Linked DNA regions of Homo sapiens. The protein of the gene in region 2 purifies or fractionates together with the protein of the main gene of each other region. This does not show direct contact. Each region holds a gene or a part of one and is shown on either strand. Other genes may lie near its edges.

Evidence for each region.
Region 1: the proteins of AEBP2 (region 2) and EZH1 purify together in Homo sapiens (affinity purification with mass spectrometry; 3 studies listed by BioGRID and IntAct, with this or other methods). This does not show direct contact.

What each region holds. Positions count from the first base shown.
Region 1 is NC_000017.11:42,698,603-42,707,145, forward strand, and holds the end of EZH1 (histone-lysine N-methyltransferase EZH1), read right to left. Parts: intron 7,584-8,543; coding exon 7,405-7,583; intron 6,582-7,404; coding exon 6,486-6,581; intron 6,082-6,485; coding exon 6,000-6,081; intron 5,219-5,999; coding exon 5,138-5,218; intron 4,360-5,137; coding exon 4,275-4,359; intron 3,991-4,274; coding exon 3,930-3,990; 3' UTR 1,673-3,929; downstream 1-1,672. Other genes in the region: CNTNAP1 (contactin-associated protein 1 precursor), read left to right, coding at 16-308.
Region 2 is NC_000012.12:19,518,506-19,524,093, reverse strand, and holds the end of AEBP2 (zinc finger protein AEBP2), read right to left. Parts: 3' UTR 5,420-5,588; coding exon of another isoform or gene 5,374-5,419; 3' UTR 1,867-5,373; downstream 1-1,866. UniProt on the Homo sapiens protein: Acts as an accessory subunit for the core Polycomb repressive complex 2 (PRC2), which mediates histone H3K27 (H3K27me3) trimethylation on chromatin leading to transcriptional repression of the affected target gene.

The sequences.
Region 1 (8,543 bases), on a different chromosome or scaffold from region 2:
TTTTCTTCTTTTCAGTTTTGGTGGCCTTTCTGCTGCTGGGGCTGGTGGGAATGTTGGTGCTCTTCTATCTGCAAAATCATCGCTATAAGGGCTCCTACCATACCAATGAGCCCAAGGCTGCCCACGAGTACCATCCTGGCAGCAAACCTCCCCTACCCACTTCAGGCCCTGCCCAGGTCCCCACCCCTACAGCAGCTCCCAACCAAGCTCCAGCCTCAGCCCCAGCCCCAGCCCCAACTCCAGCCCCAGCCCCTGGCCCCCGGGATCAGAACCTACCCCAGATCCTGGAGGAGTCCAGGTCTGAATGAGTCAGAAGGGCTTCTGGGACCAATTCCAGCTCCTGACATTCCCCCAGTCCTGCCTCTCCCCCATCCTATCAGGGACATTTGGCTCCTCTTAGCTGGCTCTGCTCATCCAGAGGATATTCCCCCATCCCCCCCCCATCAAGTTTGGTGGGCAGAGCTACAGATGGGACCCAAGGGAGTGGCCGAGCCTCACTGCCTAAACCAATGCCCTTCTCATCCCTGTTTCCCCAGGCTCCTGGCTGTTTATCTGCCCCAAAGGAGAAGCCTCATGGGGTTGACATAGGTCCTTTCTGCCATCTCTGTTCCAGCTGCTGTCAGGGATTAACAACAGAGTGTAGGGGAGATTAACTGCCTCCCTTCCAATAGACACTATCAGCAGGGACAGATGTGTGGGAGTGCAGGGCTGCAGAGGGTATGGGGGGAGGAGGCTGCTAAACCCTATCCCCCAGCCTCCCCCCTGCCCTGAAGATCTTCCATTTGCTTCCACTCAGCTGGAGGCTCAAGAGGGCTTGATGGCTGTCCCCTGCCCCCCTCCTTTTGTTTTGTACACAGAGACCAAGAGGCCTCAGTTTAGCACCTTAGTACCTCCGCTGCTTCACTTGCTTTAGCCAAAGCCATAAAAAACCTGCAACGTAGAGAAAATAATGCAGATACCCTGACTAGCCAGCCCTCTACTCCTCCAACCTTTTCCAAGATATGCAATGGCCTTTGTGCCTGCCCAAAGGCTTCGCCCCCTCCAGTGCATGAGGAACCCTCTTTCCTCCGCTCAGAGATGCTGCTTCATTTACCCAGGAGGTCATATTCTTTATATATATTTTTTGTTGCAAAGTGTCTCTCTAGAGAAACTCTATATATTATTCGAATTTTTAAATTATTTGTTTATATATAAAAGAAAAGCTCAATTGGCTGTGCTGTCCTGTGCTGTGCTGTGCCCACAGTCTGTAGTTTGCCTTTCCTGTGTTGGAAGTGTCGTGAGTCCTGCTGGTCACCCACCAGCCTGGTCCGGCCTCCACTCTGAAGCAGGGTTGAGCCTGCTGTGCTCTCAGACGCGGAGCCGTTCCAATAAAGCAGAGTGGCAGAGCCCCAGTCTGTGTGTGGTAGCTGGCGTCGTGGTTAGGGGATAAGTGGGATGATTTTAAGGGAACTAATCTGAGGGCTCAGGAATTTCTAGAAGGAGCTCTCAGAATCCTTGCATCACCTTCCAGGGACTTGACTGACTGGCTCTTGCCAGAACCCCCATCTCCCCCTTTCCCAGATCTCAGTGGGTAAGTGGGGATCAGAATGCTGATGCTTCGGCCCAACCTGCTCCTGGACCCCATCCCTGGATCCTTCCAGCCCCAAAGCACACAGTACACAACTTGCCAAAATGGATTCTAACACTTTATTAAGAGGTCACAAGCCACAGGACTTTAAAGTGCATGAAATTTATTGGCAATGAAGCCGCATGTATACCAGGCTCCCCTAGTCCCCACCACCTTGCCCCATCCATCATGACGTGGTGGGGAGGGGTTGAGACCCATCTTTAAAAGTGGGGGACAGCAGGGACAAAGGATGGGAAACTGGAGGAACAGGAGTATTCATGAACTGAAGCTGGGACAGGAGACTGACCACAGTGATTCTGCTCACTGAAGGAAGGGTGGGGTCAGTCTAGTCTCTCAAAGGCTGGTGAAAAGTTTTTTTTCACCTATTCCTCACAGCGAGCCCCTGGCATTTCAAATAGACCTAACTCCTCCTCTTCATCTTTCTCTGGTTTTCTCCTCTATGAGTAATTTGGAACCCACAGTCCAGCTTGAGGGTATCCCTGATATGCACAATGAATACAAACCACGGCGGATGCAGATTTCAGGATCATGCTGGGGCCTGGCCCATTTGGGTGGGAGGAGCTTTCTGTCAGGAGTTGCTGGGTGCGGGGTACGTGTGTGCCCTCCAGTGTGGTGAGTGAGAGCATGTGAGTGTGTGTGCATGTCCCATACCAAACCGTAAGAGGCAGCTGGGTCAGGAGGAACCCCACTTCTTCCTTCATGGGACAACAAGTGGAGTGGGAAGAAGCGGGGCTCTGAGTCCCAGAAAGAAGGGAGAAGCCTGCTCCCTACTGTAACACTCCCAGGCCAATCTATACCCGCCCACACCCTTTCTACTCAACATACTGCTCCTTGTTCCCAGCCAGCCCGGCACACCCACCATGGACACAGGGCAGCTCTTGCTGGCCCCATTCACATGAAATTCTTCTGTGTGAAACTCACTCGTCTGCCTCTCCCAGGAGATGAGACAGGACTGGAGGAGAATCTCCCACCCTCTCTTCTTCCCCCTCCCTCAGGAGTGGGATTTAGGCAGGGACCCTAGAGACCTTAGGCCAAACTCTACCCCAATCTATAGACCTTTTAAAAGAAATGGTTAAAGTGCTTTGCTCTGCATGAATGCCAGAGAGGGTGGCACCACAGCCTGGGACAGGTGGTCTACCTGCTTCTTCTCCCACTTCAGATACCCTCTGCCAGTGTGCCCTGCACACGGGGTGCCAGCCTAAACGCGTGCAATTTAGCCCCTCACCAACCTTGGAACATATTCTAACTCACCCTTTCCAAACAGCAGGCACTACAGACAGGAAAGCAGATTACACCAATCTTTCTCCTCTCTAGTCCAAGCCTGTGCCCACCTACCCTGAAGCGATAAGCAACACTGGCCATTGGGCCTTGCCTCTATGGGGAATGGAAGGCCTGAAAACACCCACAAATCCAGCGAGCCAGGATGCTCACACCTGCCAGGCATACCCCTAATGCTTCTTCAATAGCAGCATAATGCTTGCCTGCAGCTGCTAAGCCAGAACTTTGGAGGAGCTGGAGCACTGGTGTCTGTTCCCAGGAATCTGAAAACACTTCTCCATCTATCTCCAGAGTACACAGAGAAGGCTTTCTCAAAGCCTCCTGGGCCCAAGCTTAGCAGTTTAACTACTATCATCTGGCTGGTTCTCCCTCTCTGGCTAAGGAAGGATGGCGTAGCTTTCCTTCCCCCAGCCTTGAATGCCTGTACTTAGAACCCACACTCTTTCAGTTTGAGCCCTGCCACGAGGGAGGAGGTAGTAAGGTGACCTGTCTACCTCTGAGTTCAGTCTGTGCTGCCTGCCAGGCTCGCCTCTAACCCAGACCACTTGTAGGCTCCAGGGACCACACTTCACTTAGCCTGTCCTCTCCAGGTCTTAGGACCACAGAGGTTTGCCTGCATCCCAATAACATAAGGACTCTTGATGTGGAAAGCTACAATTACAGGCTAGCGCTTGTTGGGAACTGCCTAAGTTGATTCCTGAGGCCACAGCCTGGGGAGCCGACACGAAATCACGCATAAGTCATCCACCCCAGCCTGTGCTCGCTTCTTCTGAGGCCAGAGAAACAGTCTCCCATTTCTGTAACTCTCTGTCCTGGGAGACCAAGCCCTAGCTGCCTCTGTCTCCCCTCTCATTGAGACAGTTTTGTGCCCTCTGGACATGGCAGAGGCCTCACTACAGAGGGAGTGGGTTGGGGGGTTTCTCAGTGTGGGAGACACAGTGCAGGAGACTCGAGCAGCAGTGGTGTGAGCACGAAAGCCAAGACAGTGCCGCTACCATAAGTGCTGCCGTGGGGCCTGGGAGGGCTAAAGGACGTCGGTCTCCCTCTCGATCCCCACGTACTTGAGAGCATCAGCTTGGCTGTACCTGTCCCAGAGCAGGGAAGAGGAACCAGGTTACTCTCATGACTTTTGTGATTGAAAAGGCGGAGTCCCCTCCCGTTTCACTTCCCCTCCCACTCCTTAAGGGCTGTTTACAATGGTCCCACTTCTGAGGCAAGGCACCAGATATCAGAACAAGGGACACAGCCTTATTCACCGGGAGACTCTCTCCTCCATCTCCATTACCCTCCCTGAGCCCCCAAATCTATTCCAACAGCCACTCTTTCCAATTCCTGGGCCACATCCCAAGGACCATTACTGGCACCTCACCTGTAATCAAAGAAGAGCTCTTCGCCAGCTTGAATTGCCCTCTTGGCAAAGATCCCAATCCGATGGTCTCCATTCACCATGACCACTGCAAGCAGGATAAACCCGAGGCTAGGTTCCTACCCAACTCCAAGTCAATAACCAGTAGGCTTCTGGGTTGATTTTCTCCAAATTCCCAGTGAAAACATGAATCAAATGGAATTAGAAAGTAGTCAATATGGTAGTTGCCTCTATGCTTTTAGATCTGTTATTATGGCAGAAAAATTATCTTTATTATTATTATAAGTGGGGTTTTTTGTTTTGTTTTGTTTTGTTTTTTGAGACAGAGTCTTGCTCTGTTGCCCAGGCTGGAGTGCAGTGGCATGATCTTGGCTCATTGCAACCTCTGCCTCCAGGGTTCAAGCGATTCTTGTGCCTCAGCCACCTGAGTAGCTGGGACTACAGGTGCACACCACCACGCCCCCCAGCTGATTTTTGTATTTTTAGTAGAGATGGGGTTTCACCATGTTTGCTAGGCTGGTCTTGAACTCCTGGCCTCAAGTGATCCACCTGCCTCAGCCTCCCAAAGTGCTGGGATTACAGGCGTAAGCCACCACACCCAGCCTATTATTATTTTGTGAGATGGGTCTCACTATGTTGCTCAGGCTGGTTAAATCATGTTTGTGGGAAAGTGTTTATAATGTATTCGCTGAAAAAAGCAGATTAGAAAACTAAGATTGAGAGGGGCCTAAAATGATACCAGATATTAATCATGATTATCTTTGGACAAAAAATAGCTCAGCTAAGGAAAATGTTCAACAACGAATGGAAATCACAGTAAAGAGGCATCCATCCCCCACCCCACCTCCCAGGTTACTGGGACTCACCTTTGGCATAACAGTTGGGATTCACTGAATGATTTGCAAATCGAATTTTGTTTCCTTTCCGAGTAGCATCCACTACAAAATCTGTATAAAGTAAATCAAGGAAAACCATAAGCACAGCAGGCAATTCCACAGCTTCTCAGCTTGAATTTAAAATCAGTTAAATGGTAACAGAAACACTTTAGTCTGATGGGAATGTTGAAGCCCAGTGTGCTAACAGGAGCAGAGGAAAGCATGCAGCCTCAGAATTCAGCCTTGTGTGGGAGCACTCCCTTTGGGTCCCTCTTTGAATTATGGATCTTCTCATCTACTGGGCAGGGAGATTTCTCAGGTAAAGACGCTCAGCACTCCTATTACAAACAGAACCCAGAAATGGAGGTTCTTCCAAAGCAAGGGCACTGTGGCCTGTGGGATCCCCAAGTGTGATCCTGCCCCCTTGCTCTATGCATCTGCTGGAAGATTCGGAGCTGATCTAAACTTGGACTACAGCAAGGGCAATCTGGTAGAAAGATCACCTTGGGGCCAAGTGCGGTGGCTTACTCCTGTAATCCTAGCACTTTGGGAGGCCGAGGCGGGTGGATCACTTGAGGCCAGGAGTTCGATACCAGCCTGGCCAACATGGTGAAACCCAGTCTCTACTAAAAATACAAAAATATTAGCCGGGCATGGTGGCAGGTGCTTGTAGTCCCAGCTACTCGGGAGGCTGAGGCAGGAGAATCACTTGAACCCGGGAGGCAGAGGGTAGAGGCTACAGTGAGCCAAGATCGCACCATTGCACCCTAGCCTGGGCAACAGAGCAAGACTCCGTCTCAAAAAAAGAAAAAAAAAAAAGACCACCTTGGGATGAGACAAAGTGACTTCATACCATTATTGAGGTTGAAGAGGAAGCTGGACATGTATTTGTCATAGACCTTTCCGCGTCGATCAGCCTCATCCTGAGAGATGAGCTAGAGAGATAGACAAATAACAAATAGGAGTATCAGGCTGCCTGCTCAGGGCATGGTACCCTGCCCCCAGAAAGGGCTGGGTGGTATCTCACATGGGTGCTTACTGAGCATCATGATGAGAATCACAAGAGAGCAAGTTCAAGTTATGCTGTTCCAATTCCCACCCAGGCCAACCAGTTTTAAGGCTGAAAAGAGCCCCCCTCATCTCTTGTGTCTGGAGTTGCCAAAGAGTTGAACAGTGGTTTCAGTACTGCAAACGGTTCTGTGGGATCTCCCCAAGAGGCCACGTGAGAACACAGCTGAGTTATTTAGAGATTAATTCAAAGAAGCCTGGCCCACAGAAAATCAGAGTTTCTCATCAGTCTCCCCCGAGTAAGAATGTGGGCCAAAACTATAGCACTCACCTCACCACAGTATTCAGAAATGAATTCGTTCTTCTGCACAGACTCCTTTATGAAGGTGCCCCATCCGGCCACATCAGAGGGGGCCAGCAGCAGGTGCTGGGGAAGAGGGGGCCAAGTCTCAGACTACAGGGTGTGCATGAGTAGGGGGTGTGTGCTGGATGTGCACATGTGTGGTGGGGGTGGGGTGGAAAGAACCAGCAACTGTTAAGAGGATCTGAAAGCAGAAAAAGGTCTAACCCATTCTTTTCTGCTTGGGAGAGAAAAGAAAATGGGAGGTGGTGACGAACGGAAATAGGATATCTCTTCCTTTATCCATGGAGCCCTCCTGGGCCTTAGTCTATAGGAATTCACTGCAATGTGTGAGGTAAACATAGACATCACCAAAGGTGCATACACCTCGCAGCTCCTTTTTGTCTGGCCAGTTCAAGGAACCACTTTTCTTTCTCTTTTTGGAGATGGAATCTCACTCTGTCCCAGGCTGGAGTGCAGTGGTGCGATCTCGGCTTGCTGCAACCTCCACCTCCCAGGTTCAAGCGATTCTCCTACCTCAGCCTTCTGAGTAGCTGGGATTACAGGCATGCACCACCATGCCTGGCTAATTTTTATATTTTTAGTAGAGACAGGGTTTCACCATGTTGCCCAGGCTGGTCTCGAACTCTTGACCTCATGATCCGCTGGCCTCGGCCTCCCAAACTGCTGGGATTACAGGCATGAGCCACCACACCTGGCCAGGAACCATTTTTCTAAGCCCTACTGGGACTGAAGCCTTTATTAATTCAGTAAATATGTGTCTTTTAGGATTTATCAAGCACTTTCACATATAAAGCCTCAAAAGAACCAGTGGAAAGAGAATGCTTGGGACCGTTCCTTCCTTCCCCCTCCATTTTATGTGGTGTGGGGTCCTGAGGAAAGGCCTCACCTTCTTAAGTCCACGCTGGATGCTGCAGTTTTTACAGGAAACCACCTTGCAGTCCCAGTGCTCTGAGGCCCCACAGGTGAGACACAGGTCAGGGTCACATTCTCGCACTGCCAGATAGCAAGGACATTGCTTGGTATTGCACTGGGTCTTACAGCGACAGCCAGGGAAACGATTCTGACCTGGGAAGGGAAGACAGGTAAGTCTTAGAAGGGAAATAAGCTAATACTGGGGCTTGTGGTTGACTCAAGGGACAGCAAAGAAGTAAATTTTTTGTGTTCAAGGATGTTTGGCAAAATAAGAGGAAGCTCCCTTCCCAATAATCAAATACACAAGTTTTGTCCATAGAAAACTGAGTGCTTCCCAACATTCATGCCTTCGAGTCAAAAAAGCAGGTGTGGTCAAGCATGGTGGCTCATGCCTGTAATCCTAGCACTTTGGGAGGCCAAGGCAGGAGAATCACCTGAGCCCAGGAGTTCAAAACCAGGCTGGGCAACATAGGGAGATCCTGTCTCCACAAAAAAATTAAAAAAAAAAATAGCCATGTGTGGTGACACCTGCCTGTAGTCCCAGGCTTGATGGATGTAGGGGGATGAATGGCTTGAGCCAGGGAGGTTGAGGCTGCAGTGAGCCATAATTGTGCCACTTCTCTCCAGCCTGAGCAACAGAGCTGAGATCCTGTCTCAAAAAAATTTAAAAAATGAAAAAAAAAGCAGGTATACTAATAAGAAGTGTCCCCTAGAGATTCCCCAACAATCCTCTCCCTCCCACTGAGGTGGAGAGTACCCCAGAGAATATGAAATCAGTGTGTTTCACTGGTAAATTGTCACCATCAAAACAAGTATCATTTTGAGAACAGAATGCATCCGTTCTATGCCATCCTTCTCCACCCACTGCCCAACCCAGCGCAACCACTTCTCTGCTGCGGCTAAGATCACTATCTGCTATGGGTTAGGAGGTATTTCCTCCAGCAAAACCGCCTGGGCACCAAGTTCTGCAAGCTGTGGGGACTGCCATCAAACTGCTCAGCTTTGAGTTGGGAAGGGCATGGTGGGATAAGAAGTAAAAGATAAGTACCCGGATGTCTCTGCTGACATCCAGGCCCCTGTCTTCTACCTGATATTAAAACTCCAGCTATGAAA
Region 2 (5,588 bases):
GAAAGACGGAACGAGGGAGGGAGGGAGGGAGGGAGGGAAGGGAGGGAGGGAGGGAGAGATGGAGGAAGGGAGAAAGAAACTGGCCAGGCATGGTGGCTCATGCCTGTAATCCCAGCACTTTGGGAGGCTGAGGTGGATGGATCACAAGGTCAGGAGTTCCAGACCAGCCTGGCCAACATGGTGAAACAGTCTCTACTAAAAATACAAAAATTAGCCGGGCGTGGTGGTGTGTGTCTGTAATCCCAGCTACTCAGGAGGCTGAGGCAAGACAATCGCTTGAACCCGGGAGGCAGCAGCTGCAGTGAGCAGCGATTGTGCCATTGCACCCCAGCCTGAGCAAGAGAGAGAGATTCCATCTCAAAAAACAGGAAACCAAATACTGCATAGCTCCTTCAAAATAGTGTTTTTTAAAAAAAAAATGTTGGGCCAGGTGCAGTGGCTCGGCTCACACCTGTAATACCATGAGTTGAAGACCAGCCTGGGCAATATATTAAAAAAGCCAGCGTGGTGGTGCATGCCTGGAGGCCTAGCTACTCGGGAGGCCAACGCGACAGGGTCACTTGAGCCCAAGGCGTTTTGAAGCTGCAGCGAGCTACAATCCCGCCACTGCACTACAGCCTGGGCGACAGAGTAAGAATCTGTCTCAAAAAAAAAAAAAAAAAAAAAAGTTATTTACATCATAAAACAGGACAAAAAGGAACATTTTTAAATAAAATCAAGTAAGCCAAAATATTACATCCAATATGTAAAAACATAACATCAATAACCCTTTACACTAAGAATGTCTAAACAAACTGAAGCACAGTTCCTTTTATTAGAACTTTTGTTGTTGTTTAAAGAGGCGGGGGCCAGGCACAGTGGCTCATGCCTGTAATGCCAGCACTTTGGGAGGCAGAGGTGGGAGAATCACCTGCGGTAAGGATTTCAAGCCCAGGCTGGCCAACATGGCAAAACCCCGTCCCTACTAAAAAATACAAAAATTAGCTGGGCATGGTGGCACGCACCTGTAGTCCCAGCTACGTGGGAGGCTGAGCCACAAGAACCACTTGAAGCCGGAAGCAGAGGGTGCAGTGAGCTGAGATCACACCACTGCACTTCAGCCTCAGCAAGAGAGCAAGACTCCGTAGCGAAAAATAAAGAGGTGGGGTCTCGCTGTGTCACCCAGACTGGAATGCAGTGGTCCAATCATAGCTCACTGTAGCCTGGAACTCTTGGCCTCAAGCAATCCTCCCTTCTTACCCTCCCAAGTAGTTGGGATTACAAGCATGAACCACTATATCCGTATATAAGGTTCTTATGAAAAGGTACCTGACACTATCACAGAATGTGGCTTAAGCCAGGTCACTTCAACCCTACTACTGTTTTATCACTGTTAATTCTCCAAAGTATTTTACTGTAAAAATTACTCACCTATAATACTCATTTAACAAATTTTACAGACTATTTTGTGCCATGAATGATCATGCTAGACTGGCTGTGGCAGAAACACTGGACACAACTTTATAGTGGTATCACAATGTACATTCATGTTCTCACACTGTGAGCAGCAGTTTGGTATAGTGAAAAGAATTCTGACCTAGAAAAAAAAAAATCTGGGTTGCAATTCCTGCTCTAACCTGCTTACAAATCCTTTTCAATTTTCAGATTAACAGAACCATGTGTTAGACCACGTAAACTTGATTCAATAAATAAATTATGCAATGTAAATATTTAGTTTTTTTTAAGATGAAAATAATACATTTTACTACTATAAAACATTTTAAGGCTACAGAGCCTCATAACCATTAAATTTTAAACATATTCTAATTTTAAAAAAAACAGCAAATATATTAAAACTGCAGTGTTACAAATGCAAAATGTCCTACACCAGGTCACAAGATTCTTTAATTTAAAAACAAACTACGTACACAGGAAATTTTCTAACAATTTCTTCCCTTTTATGAATACATATTCTGTAATTTTTAGAATAGAGAAATATGTTTTAACCAAAATCCCCAAAATGTCCACTTATCTCAAAAAAAAAAAATTCAGGTGACACGATTTAACTCCTTTTTTAGAAACAAAGTATCTCCTTGTAGACCTGTACCCAACAGGCTTTGTTACACAGACATACATATCAGTTTTCATATAAACTAAGAATTTAAGTTCTTTCAGAGAACTTATGCAGAGGTATTAAAGGTTTCTTTTTTTAAGTTGTGATTAAAGAGAAAACCCTCTATCAAGTATTTTTAATACATATTTTCTCATTTTTATATTTTAAGAACCCAACATCTGTTCACCATGAATTAAGAATTCAAAGAAAAAATAAAAATGCTTTAAACAACTGTGGCAAATTCTACCGTTTTAAGAGTATTACCATATTTAAAACATTTTATTAATGTGTAAAAGGGGGAAAAAAGCACTAAGGCCAAAGATTTACTGACATACTGTTTTCAATTAGTAAAACAAATCTTAAAATATTGAGAGATAATTATTGTCCATCTTTAATTTCCTTTCATGTGAAATTCAGAAGTAACATGTGTCCACTTTAGGTAACATTTATATATAAAAAGTTTATTAGAAATATAAAAAATTTTAAATTTTACACTATTTCCACCTTAAGATTCTTTTAGATAAAGCAGATGTGCCTTACGGTTCAAACACAATCTGATGTACAAAATCTTATTTAGTTCTTAGCAAAATAAATACAGAAACACAAATGATGAAATGATGGACTATTAATAACTTTAAAAACCCACCGTAAAAGTTTCCAAAAACCACCATTTGTTGTAGGTACCTAATATGGCAGTATTTACTGTAAAATACATGAAACAGCTTTCACTAAAATTTAATGTACTGGCTTATTACCAAGATCAACATTGTCATATTAAAATGCAAGTTGTGTGGTCTAAGTTTATGTTTCCAAACTTTTTGTCAACTAGACAAAGGAATCGAAAACTTTTTCTTAAAGGACCAGAGACAGGCTGAGTATCCCTTATCCGAAATGCTTGGGACCAGAAGTATTTCAGATTTTTGATTTTTTTCAGATTTTTGAGTATCTGCATATACATAATGAGACTCAGAAATGCGATCCAAGACTAAACATAAAGTTCATTTATATCTCACAAACACCTTATACACATAGACTGAAGGTAATTTTATACAACAGTTTTAATAATTTTGTGCATGAAACAAAGTCTTAATTGTTTTGACTATGACCAGTCACATGAGGTCAGGCGTGGAATTTTCCACTTGCAGCATGATGTCAGCACTCAGAAAGTTTTGAACTTTGGAGCATTTTTTATGTCAGATTTTTGGATTAGGGATTGCCAACCTGTAGTAAAAATTGGGGGCTTGCAGGACCTAAGGTCTCACCACTCAATTCTGCCACTGCAGGAGAAAGCAGGCATAGACAACATATAAATGGGTATGCTTGTGAGCTGTAGTTTGCTTGATGCTGAACAATACATAAATTCTGGACAACAGACTTATTATTTCAGGTGTCATATTTGAAGGTAGGAGCAACAATACAGATGGGCAGACATTAATAAATGAAAACCACAAATTAAAATTTTCACACTTATTACCCAGTCATAATTGGATGTTATGTGTATATATGTATACATACAAGTTATAAAGCTAGCTCATTTCAATTCCATATTCTTTTTGGTGTGTTAACAGTATCAAACCAACATCAGATAAGCAGCAAAAGGATTATGATTGATTGAGTACTCAGAAGTTAATCAAGGATCACGAAATCTGGTTTTGACATCTAAGTATTTCTACACAATGAAAAAACTTATTTACTGTGCTCTATATAGAAAATATCAGATGTATCTTTTCAGGTGTCATTTTAAAATTCAATTGAATTGTTACAATTTGAAGCTAAATGTGATTTGCTTTGTTTTATTAGAAAAAATACTCAAGCAAGGTCTACAATCATTGGTCAATTAAGAATGACTTACAAGAACATGAGGCAATAAAATAAAAATACAGGTACAAACTATGTATCTGAAACACTTCTATTTGGCAATTTTATAACAAATCAAATTTTAAAAAGAACAAAAGAGATTGCAGATTACTTCGCAGATACAGAATAAAGCAATTGATGAAGTGCTTAAGCAAAAGAAAACAACAAAAAAAGAAAACACACTGCTTTTCTTTTTAAAAATAAAATCACATTGCTATAGATCAAATGGATAATACCCTTATTAAACAACCATTCCAGAATGTCTTATAGTAGCAGTGCTTTTATTTGCACTTCACTTAATTTTATAAGACTCATTTTCATGTATATAGCTCTTTACCCCCATTGTTAACGAATAAAGTCTCTCATAATTTTTACACTTTTAAATTTTTTAAAGCAAATGAGAAATGATTTATGTATCGTGGAACCTTTCCCATTTTGGAACCAAAGGTTTTAATTCTATATTTTTGTCTAATATTTCTTTAAAAAATTTAGTGTAAAAACTGCTGGTTTTTATATCACTGTAGTAAAGTGAAAACTCCTCAACCAGGAGTATTTTCTGCAGTTTCACTGCATATAACCACATACTTTACAATGTCCTTCCAACAGTAAGGAAATAACTGATTTCTTGATCACTGTCAGAAATGAGTGCCATAATTCTATTATGGGTATAGGTCCTCCCTCAAAGACTTTCTGGAAGGATGTTCAATGTGTTTTGTTCTTAGAGATATTAACAGTAGTACATAGTCCCTTAAGTCTGTGAAAGACATTTATTGTTAAAGAAGGTGCTTTTATTAACAATTCCTCTGGCAGCACTAGTGAAGTACAATATCCTTCAATATTATTTCTACCATAATATATACATTTAACTTTCATGCCTCTAGAAAACATCTACAGTACATTTCAAAATATAAAAATATATTACAAATCTGCTGAATTATTTACAAGCAATGTTCTATTATCTCTATGCAACATTTGTTTAATACAATACTAACAAGTTACACATATTTCCATTTCTGTAAGTTAAAAAAAATCGATATGGCTTCTTGCTTACCAAGCAAGAAAGTGATTTTATTTTCCTTTTCAAGACCAACTTTGGTGCATAAAAGATTCAGTTTGAAGATACTTGTAAAAAAAATACAATTTTTCTTACATTAAGAAAAAACAACTCAAAAACCAAATGATTTCCTCAGAAAAAAAATTAGAGTCATATAGGTTAAATGAAAATATGAAGATTATTCAAATAATTTGAAAGGTTTTTCAAAAACCGTTAACAGATTAGTTATATAGGTAAATATTAACATACTGTACTCCATGAGAAAGCCCTAGTCCTGAAAAGGGAGCCACCAGACATACTGCAACACTCTTTAACAGTAATTTTCAGCCCTAATTCGATAGACGAATTTTTAGTTGATTGCAAACGTCGTTCACTGTTTGCTTAAATACAAATTGAACACTTTTCTTATCAGAGTTCTGCAAAAGAACACAAATGGCAACCAATCACATCTATTTATCATAATTGAAAGGTAAATTATCTCTTGATAATTTTCATTGTCTAAATATTTCCTAATATGACTTCAAATCAATAAACACTGTCAAGACAAATATCCTTACAGTGCTTTTGGTATTTGTAAGGGCACAT